3 linked regions of the Homo sapiens genome follow. The protein of the gene in region 2 interacts with the protein of the main gene of each other region in a biochemical or structural test. Each region holds a gene or a part of one and is shown on either strand. Other genes may lie near its edges.

Evidence for each region. Proteins that work in one complex are often made in the same cells at the same time.
Region 1: the proteins of PRKAR2A (region 2) and WASF1 form a complex in vitro, tested with the Homo sapiens proteins (one study listed by BioGRID).
Region 3: the proteins of PRKAR2A (region 2) and CHD8 form a complex in vitro, tested with the Homo sapiens proteins (one study listed by BioGRID).

What each region holds. Positions count from the first base shown.
Region 1 is NC_000006.12:110,124,171-110,127,670, reverse strand, and holds part of WASF1 (actin-binding protein WASF1), read left to right. Parts: intron 1-41; 5' UTR 42-69; coding exon 70-202; intron 203-3,500.
Region 2 is NC_000003.12:48,760,875-48,764,374, forward strand, and holds part of PRKAR2A (cAMP-dependent protein kinase type II-alpha regulatory subunit), read right to left. Parts: intron 1-3,500. UniProt on the Homo sapiens protein: Regulatory subunit of the cAMP-dependent protein kinases involved in cAMP signaling in cells. Type II regulatory chains mediate membrane association by binding to anchoring proteins, including the MAP2 kinase.
Region 3 is NC_000014.9:21,387,412-21,390,123, forward strand, and holds part of CHD8 (chromodomain-helicase-DNA-binding protein 8), read right to left. Parts: intron 1-2,712. UniProt on the Homo sapiens protein: ATP-dependent chromatin-remodeling factor, it slides nucleosomes along DNA; nucleosome sliding requires ATP. Acts as a transcription repressor by remodeling chromatin structure and recruiting histone H1 to target genes.

The DNA.
Region 1 (3,500 bases), on a different chromosome or scaffold from region 2:
CTGAAATTTAATATTGTTAATTTATTTTTGATTTCCTACAGGTGAACTGGCACAAAGGTTAATCTCAAGATGCCGCTAGTGAAAAGAAACATCGATCCTAGGCACTTGTGCCACACAGCACTGCCTAGAGGCATTAAGAATGAACTGGAATGTGTAACCAATATTTCCTTGGCAAATATAATTAGACAACTAAGTAGCCTAAGTAAGTATATATCAATTAAAAATATACTCACAAACCAGAATGTTATGCTTTAGCGTATTAAGAAGTTGTGCTTCTGATTAATTTGGGAGTATGATTTGGTGAGAAGAGTACAAAATTATCCTGAAAAATATAGTCACATGAGTATAATTATTGAGTTTTACAAGAACCTCTTCTGCATGATGTTTCTTCTGGGAAAGGAAAATACGGACAGAATCTCTAGGAACAGAAACACATGATGAATGAAAATTATTGAGATTGTTTTAAAAATATATAATCTGCGAAAGGACCAGAGTTGTACTTTTCCTTGGTTATTATCACTATTTACTCTGTTTAGAGGCCTCAACTATTTGTGTTTTCAAACACTAGTATCCCTCTCTTTATATATATATTTAATTAGTTTAGGGAAATATTTTTATATTAGCAAAGATCTAAGGTGAGAGGTATGGGGTCATTATTAGTCAGAGGGGTAGGCTAGTCAAGTGGGATGTCTAAGAGACATTAGGATATAAGTCAGGAATCTGATATGCAGCATTGTGTGAAAACAGCAAATGAACTTGGCCTCTGGCAGACAGAAGTCAAGCAGGTTGGCCAGAGAATAAAGGCCAGTGAAAGAGGCAGATTAGGGAGAAGGAGACAGGCAATATGTTCTCATTGCAGATTTACAGAATAGAGCAACTTGGTTAAGGAATTAAACAAATTATTTTCTATTCTAAGTTTATTTAGAAAATTTAAAAAATCTGGTCTGTCTTTTGCATTGAAGGATTAGCTTTTTCATAAGACATTGATATTTCATTTTAAAGGTGAAACAAGGTGTTCTTGGCAGAGATAATATCCACCAAGTGGTCCTAGATTTATCTCATCAGCCATATAAATTCTCCTGATAAGCAGGCTTGGCTTTTCTTTTCTTTTCCTTTTAACTTTTGTCCTTTCTTTTATAATTGAGTACTTAGCACAAGAGGTTGTTAATCTAATTTGTTTCCGGTAAGAAAGTTTAGGCATACCTGTAGCGAGAGCAACATAAAAAGTTACATTTGAATATTCTCTGTGAGAGTACTAAATTTTTGCATTGCCTGTGAAATAGTAAGAATAAATAAAAGGCTATTTTATTTGAATTTTAAGTATATTCCTTGTTCCATTCAGTGGTCATTTTTTTCAGGTTAGTGAATCACTAAAATATTGTATTGTTTACTTGAGGCTAATAAAAAAAGTGTTAGAGTTCCCAGTTTAAATATGATTAACTATATTGTTTAAAGATATTTTGCAGATTTTTTGTGACCTAGCACGGATTGAATCAAGTATAACATGATGTCATATAAAATTTGTTTTATATATGTTATGTACATACATAAGTATATAAGCATGCTAATATTAAAATACATGTTAAGAACATAGAAATGGCATTAGTAATTTTGTATAACATATTTCTTAAAATGAATTGTGGATCCAGTACAGGCATCTTATTTTAGGTATATACCCAATATAGAATTTAGAACTAATATTGTGATTAAGGGTGATAATTTGCAGTACTAACCCATTTGTTACAAAACTTAAAGATGAAAATTTAAGGAATTTTTAAGTCTATATAGTCCATATAAGCAACATCTATCAGCAGGCACATGGTTATGCTGTAGCGAAACTCTGAAAATTATAAATACCTTGTAACAATATAACTAAATTAGGTGTTGGGTGCTTCACATTTAGAATCAGAGACCTGGAAGGCATTGTTTAAGCAGTTTGTAGAGATTCAAAAACAAAGAGAAAACCCATAAAATATTCTAGCAAGGTGTGACAATAGCTTACTGCCCTGAAATTAACTTCTCTGGCAGCTTTCCCACTTGACATAGTTGAGAACCTGGAATTAAATTTAAAAGGCCTCTAGATAGCCAGAATAAATAAACTCATGCACTAAAGACCATGCACATAAAATAACCAATTGATCCCTCTCTCAAAACCTGTTTACTTTTACCTTGATAGTTCAAACAGATTTGATGATGTGGTTTCCAAACAGTTATGCTTCAGAGGATAAAAGGAGGAAGCATGGGAGGAGATACTAGAAGGAGGCATCACTGAACCCAACCAAAAGGAGGTAGTTCACAGGAAAGGACAAAGTGATGTAAGGGAAGATGCAACATAAAAACTGGAAAGAAGCCATTTAATGTAAAGCAAATATCCTTATACATTTCAAGGCTGTTTTCTGGCCTAGGATAATATTTGATTTTCATAATTCATGCCCGTGAGTCCCTAAGAAAAAATTAAATTATGTTTAATTTTATATTCCATTTAAGAAGAGGGAAGCTTAGAATACATTTCACAAGTTTCCATCGAAAATAGTTAAAATAACAATTGATGTATTAGATAATAAAATCTGAATTACTTAGAAAACTTGGCTATCCAAAATGTTTCTAGATAATGGAGATTTTCACTTTGGTGCTATTATTAGTACTGAAAGTGCTTGAGAATATAGCAATGAAAGTAAACTGCAGGGATCCACATGGCTCAGGGCTGGATATCTTCCTGACCTTTTCCTCACAAAAATGTACTTCCTTTTTTTATTTTTTTGAAACAGAGTCTTGCTCTGTCACCCAGGCTGGAGTGCAGTGGTGCGATCTTGGCTCACTACAAACTCCACCTCCCAGGTTCAAGCAATTCTTGTACCTCAGCCACCAAAGCCGCTGGGATTACAGGCGAGTGCCATCATGCCTGGCTAATTTTTGTATTATTTTTAGTAGAAATGGGGTTTTGCCATGTTGGCCAGGCTGGCCTTGAACTTCTGGCCTCAAGTGATCCACCCGCCTCGGCCTCCCAAAGTGCTGGGATTACAGGTGTGAGCCACCATACCCAGCCAGTACATCTGTTTTTTGTGAGATTTTTCCTAGTAGAACATAATTCTGTTTTGTATTAGGTAATTACCACAAACCTATAATTCACTTTATATCAATTTCCTCTTTCTCATTTTATTGCTTTCTTAATGATGCAAGGTTTTTTACTCCTTAGCTGAGCTAGGTCCAGGTTCTTGTCTCACGATGAGGAAGAATTAGGCACACAGATACTCTAAGAGTGAATGGAGTAGAATTTATTAAGTGAAAGGAAAGCTCTCAGCCAAGAGAGGGGTCCTGAAAGCAGGTTCCAGGTTGCCCCGTCACAGTTGAATACAAGGGCATATATATATATATATATATATATATATATATATAGAGAGAGAGAGAGAGAGAGAGAGAGAGAGAGAGAGAGAGGAGAGAGAGGAGAGAGAGGAGAGAGAGAGAGAGAGAGAGAGAGACGCTGATGGGGCTGGGTTCCC
Region 2 (3,500 bases):
TACTTGGAAGGCTAAGGGAAGAGTATTGCTTGAGCCTAGAAGTTCAAGGCTGCAGTGAGCTATGATTGCACACTGTACTGAAGCCTGAAAGACAGAGTGAGACCTTGCTTCTAATAAACAAAAACAAGGCTGAGTGCAGTGGCTCACACCTGTAATCCCAGCACTTTGGGAGGCAGAGGAAGGAGGATCACGAGGTCAGGAGACTGAGACCATGCTGGCTAACACGGTGAAACCTGTCTCTACTAAAAACACAAAAAATTAGCCGGACGTGGTGGCGGGCGCCTGTAGTCCCAGCTACTTGGGAGGCTGAGGCAGGAGAATGGCGTGAACCCAGGAGGCGGAGCTTGCAGTGAGCCGAGATCACACCACTGCACTCTAGCCTGGGTGACAGAGGGAGACTCCATCTCAAAAAAACAAAACAAAAACAATAAAAATAACTCAAAATGGATCACAGACCTAAGGTAAGAGCTAAAATTCTGACTGTCTAGAGCTGTACTGCTCAATACATTAGCCACGAGTCAAATGTGGCTGAGCACTTGAAATGTTGCTAGTATAAACTTAGATGTGCTATAGATGGAAAACATACATTAGATTTTGAAGACAGTATTAAAAATGTAAAATATCTCATTAATAAAGTTTTATATCACTTAGATGTTGAAACAACATTTTAGATATACTGAGTTAAATGAAATATATTAAAATTAAGTTCACCATTTCAAATATCTACTGAAAGTTTTTATTTATTTATTTTTTTTGAGACCAAGTCTTGCTCTGTCCCCCAGGCTAGAATGCAAGTGGCATGATCTTGGCTCACTGCAACCTCTGCCTCCCAAGTTCAAACGATTCTCGTGCTTCAACCTCCCAAGTAGCTGGGATTACAGTTGTGCACCAGCAAACTCAGCTAATTTTTTTTATTACTTTTTAGTAGAGACGAGGTTTCGCCATGTTGGCCAGGCTGGTCTCGAACTCCTGGCCTCAAGTTATCTGCCTCAAGCTATTCAGCCTCCCAGAGTGCTGGGATTACAGGCGTGAGCCACCCTGCCTGACCAAAAATTTTTAAAATTACATATGTGGCTCACATATTATTTCTATTGAATAGTGCTGGTCTTAGAAGTAAACTTAGGAGAACATATTATTGATTTTGCAAAGATTTCCTAAAATACAGCAGCAAAAGTACACAACTACAAAGAAGAAAAGATGATAAACTGGACTTGTCAAAATTAAAACCATTTTCTCTTCAAAAGATACCATTAAGAAAATGAAGGCCAGGTGCGGAGGTGCACACCTATAATCCCAGCACTTAGAAGGCCAAGGCGGGCAGATGGCTTGAGCTCAGGAGTTCGAGACCAGGCTGGGCAATATAGCAAGACCCTGACTGTAATTTTTTTAAAAAAGGCTGTAAATACTATTTATTGGTGAGAATGCAGAGAAACTGGAATTTTCATACATGGCTGGTAGGAATACAAGACAGTACAGCCATTTTAAGAAACAGTTTGTTATGAAGTTAAAATATAATTTAGCAATTGCACTCTTAAGTATTTACTAAGGAGGCCAGCCTGGCCAACATGGTGAAATCCCATTTCTACTAAAAAAACACACACATGCACAAAATTAGCTGGGCAGAGTGACACGTGCCTCTGGTCCCAGCTACTCGGGAGGCTGAGGCACAAGAATCGCTTGAACCTGGGAGGCAGAGGTTGCAGTGAGCTGAGATTATGCCACTGTACTCCAGCTTGGGCAACAGGGCAAGACTGTATCTCATTAAAAAGAAAAAGTAATGGGAGGCTGAGGCAAGAGAATAGCTTGAACCTGGGAGGTGGAGGTTATGGTGAGCTGAGATTGCGCCATTGCACTCCAGCCTGGGCAACAAGAGGAAAACTCCGTCTCAAAAAGAAAAAAAAATTACATTTGTACAATGAAATATTATTAGCAATAAAAAGGAACGATCTACTGATACATACAACACGAATAAATCTCAAAAATATTATGCTAAGAGAAAGAAGCCAGACACAGAGACTATACATTACATGATTTCATTTATACTAAATTGTAGAAAGGAATTTCTACAGTGACAGAAAACATCAATGGTTTCCAGGAATGTGAGTGTGGGGGAGGGTACTGACTGCAAATACAAAACAAGGAACTGTATGGGTGATGGAAATACCACTTGGGGATGGTTACAAAACTCTTCCGATTTGTACACTTAAACTTAGTAATTTTATTGTATGTAAAATACACTGTAACAAAGCTGATCAAAACAAATGAAACAACATAAAATGTAGTTTCTGATTCAGCAGGTCTGGTGGGGGGCTCCAGAACTTGCATTCCTAACAATTCTAACATCCTCAGATGATGCTGATTGCTGCTGGTCCTGGGACCTCACTTTGAGAAGCCTTGGTCCAGTGAGAGACATTGACAAAAGGGACCTACAATAAGCCCCTTTTAATATCATCTTAATTAATGTCCATTCTGTACCACTACCTATCTACCTTGAAGATAGATAGCACTCTATCTTCAAGAGCACAGACCATGAAGAAAACACTATTGACTTCTCACATCTCCTGACATACTTCCTGAAAACCCAGTATGAGACAGGCCTAGAACCTTCAGGATGACTTGAAGGTCCTTTGAATGTTACTTAAAGCACCTTAGGTTCAGAAGCAAATGTGGCCAGTTAACATCTCCCATTTCTGAATCTCAGCACTACATTCTTACCATACCAGGATACCTGCTCTGAAACACAGCTCACACCACTGGCCTTTGCTAATATTGTTTTCTTGCTCTGAAGGACCTTTCCCTGATCCCAAACATTGAAATTGCACTTGTTTTTTAAGCCCATCTCAAATGGCATTTCCTCAATGAAACCATATGTATTACTTCCATTTCTATGTTCTCACTGTCGTTCATACTCTCCTTCATTATAGTGCTTATCATATCTGGTCCTACCTATCTTAATAAATGTTTATAGAATATTCCAATTTCTAATTAAAAGAATTATTAATAGTAACGGCTCCTAGAAAACAAATACATTTAGAGATGTGACTCAGAGTAGACATCATATTTTTGTTAGTCCTTTATCTCTTCCAAGGGAGCTTTTTTCTCCCCTTTTATGGTAAGTCTGATTAGTCCTTGTGTTCTAGTGGGGCCAACTCCACCCACAGGACCCACACCTGACCAATCTGAGCCTTTCCTCCTCGTAGTCTCAGTACTGGGTTCTAGGATAAGCATATCACCCAACCTAGACCAACCATGTATCTTCTCCGTGCTCTTGAGCCAGAACCATAGGCAGATAAGCTTATACCTGGAAAAGTCCAATACTATTTATGTTTAATTAAAAATACAAACACAGCGGACAAAGAAAATTATCAGACAGTACTCATTACAATGATCTAGCCCACTGTTTAGTAATCTTTACATCTTACAAATTTGGTTAATCACTGAAGACTGTGAACTCTGATTTGTGTTAGATTAGCCAAAAGGATGCCTTTGTGTCAAATATA
Region 3 (2,712 bases), on a different chromosome or scaffold from region 2:
CACCTGAGGTTGGGAGTTCGAGACCAGCCTGACCAACATGGAGAAACCCCATCTCTACTAAAAGTACAACAAATTAGCTGGGCGTGGTGCCGCATGCCTGTAATCCCAGCTACTGGGGAGGCTGAGGCAGAAAAATCGCTTGAACCCAGGAGGCGGAGATCGCGGTGAGCAGAGATCACGGCATTGTACTCCATCCAGCCTGGACAACAAGAGTGAAACTCTGTATCAAAAAAAAAAAAAAAAAAAAAGCTGGGTGTGGTCGTGCATGGCTGCAATCCCAGTTACTCAGGAGGCTGAGGCAGGAGAATCACTTGAACCCAGGAGGCGGAGGTTGCAGTGAGCTGAGATCATGCCACTGCACTCCAGCCTGGGTTACAGAACGAGACTCTGTCTCAAGCAAAAAAAAAAAAAAAAAAAAGAATTCTGTACTAGTCATATTAGGATTTTCTGTGATTTTCTATGATATTTCTTAAGAGTTTCAGTTGACTATAAGGGAGTAGCAGAAGTACTTGAGGTAAAAATAGGTAACAGTGAAGGAAAAGCCCTTCTTACAGGCTGCTCTATAATGTTAAATTAAAGACAGAGATGGCATTAGCCTTCTAGCCACCAGCCTTTCCCATATCAACCATTCTGTTTATTGCACTCTTGTTCTCATCGAGGCTAACAGGGAAAACTGAAACATTCTCCCATGGTAACACTTCCATTAATATAAAAATAAGCCTCATAAATCTACATATATTTTATGTTTCAAACTTGTTAAATGCAAAATATTGATAGTTTACTTTAAAATTAATTTTGTTAAAAGATATTCCATGTGGTTATATAGACACATAAATATATGTGTATGCACATAGTCAGCCTTCCATATCCATGGATTCAACCATCTGTGGATTGAAAATATTTGAAAACAACAAGAAACTAAAAAATAACAAGAGAAAATACTACAGATTTTAAAACAATACCGTGTAACAACTATTTACATAGTATTTATATTGTGTTAGGTATTATAAGTAATCAAGAGATTAAAGTGTATCAGAGGAAGTGTGTCGGTTACATGGAAATACTACATGATTTTATTTATTTATTTATTTATTTTTTGAGGCAGGGTCTCACACTCTATTGCCCAGGCTGGAGTGCAGTGGCATGATCATGGGTCACTGTAGTCTCAGCCTCTGGGCTCAAGTGATCCTCCTGCCTCAGCTTCCACATAGCTGATACTAGAGGACTGCACTACCACGCCCAGCTAATTTTTTGTAGAGATAAGGTCCCACTGGGGTCCCCAGGCTGGTCTTGAACTCCTGGGCACAAGTGATCCTCTTGCCTCAGCCTCCCAAAGTGCTGGGATTACAGGTAAGAGCCACCGCACCTGGCTCTACACCATTTTATATATAAAGGACTCGAGCATCCATGGATTTTGGTATCTGCAGGGGTCCTGGAACCAATCCCTCACAGATACCAAGGGATGACTGTATGTGTATAAAGATTTCTATAGAAGATCAAATGGGGGAATAATTAGATAAGGCAAGTATATACAAGTGCTAATCCATTTTAAATGACTCTATGTCATTTAAAACAATGATTTATGTATGCTTTAAAAATACAACTATTGACCAGGCGCTGTGGCTCACGCCTGTAATCCCAACACTTTGGGAGGCTGAGGCGGGTGGATCACAAGGTCAGTAGTTCGAGACCAGCCTGACCAACATGGTGAAACCCCGTCTCTACTAAAAATACAGAAATTAGCTGGGCATGGTTGCACACACCTGTAATCCCAGCTACTCGGGAGGCTGAGGCAGGAGAATCACTTGAACTTGGGAGGTAAAGGTTGCAGTGAGCTGAGATCAGTCCATTGCACTCCAGCCTGGGCAACAGAGCAAGACTCCGTCTCAGGAAAAAAAAAAAAAAATTACAACTATTGGCCAGGCACAGTGGCTCATGCCTGTAATCCCAGTACTTCGGGAGGCTTAGGCAGGTGGATCACCTGAGGTCGGGAGTTTGAGAACAGTCTGGCCAACATGGCAAAACCTTCTTTCTATTAAAAATACAAAAATTAGCTGGGTATGGTAGCATGCGCCAGTGGTCCCAGCTACTTGGGAGGCTGAGGCAAGAGAATCACTTGAACCGGGGATGCAGAGCTTGCCGTGAGCTGAGATTGTGGCACTGCCCTCCAGCCTGGGTGACAGGGCAAGACTCTGTCTCAAAAAAATAAAAGATTAAAAAACAAATACAACTATTGCAGAAAGTAAGGTAAGCATAGCCAAGAGAAACTTTTGCAGTTGAAATTTGGTGGAAAGAATAAACTGTGGGTACTTAGTCCACCAAATGGCCTATTATCCATCATAAAAGTATAAGTAAATTTGAAAATATAGAATAACTTAATGGACAAATTTATTATGAATTACAAAACAGTTTCCTCTGCTTTTTCCATTACTGACATATTATTAGTGATTCTCAACCTTTATATATTGGGAAATCTCATGACTATTTTCCTTAGAAGACCTCTCCAAACACTTCTAAAATATATAGAATTAGAAAACTTAAGGCCGAGTGCGGTGGCTGAAGCCTGTAATCCCAGTACTTCAGAAGGCCAAGGCGGGTGGATTACTTGAGGCCAGGAGTTCCAGAGCAGCTTGGCCAACGTGGTGAAACCTCGTCCCTACTAAAAATACAAAGAATTAGCCTGGCCTGGTGGTGCACGCCTGCAATCCCAGC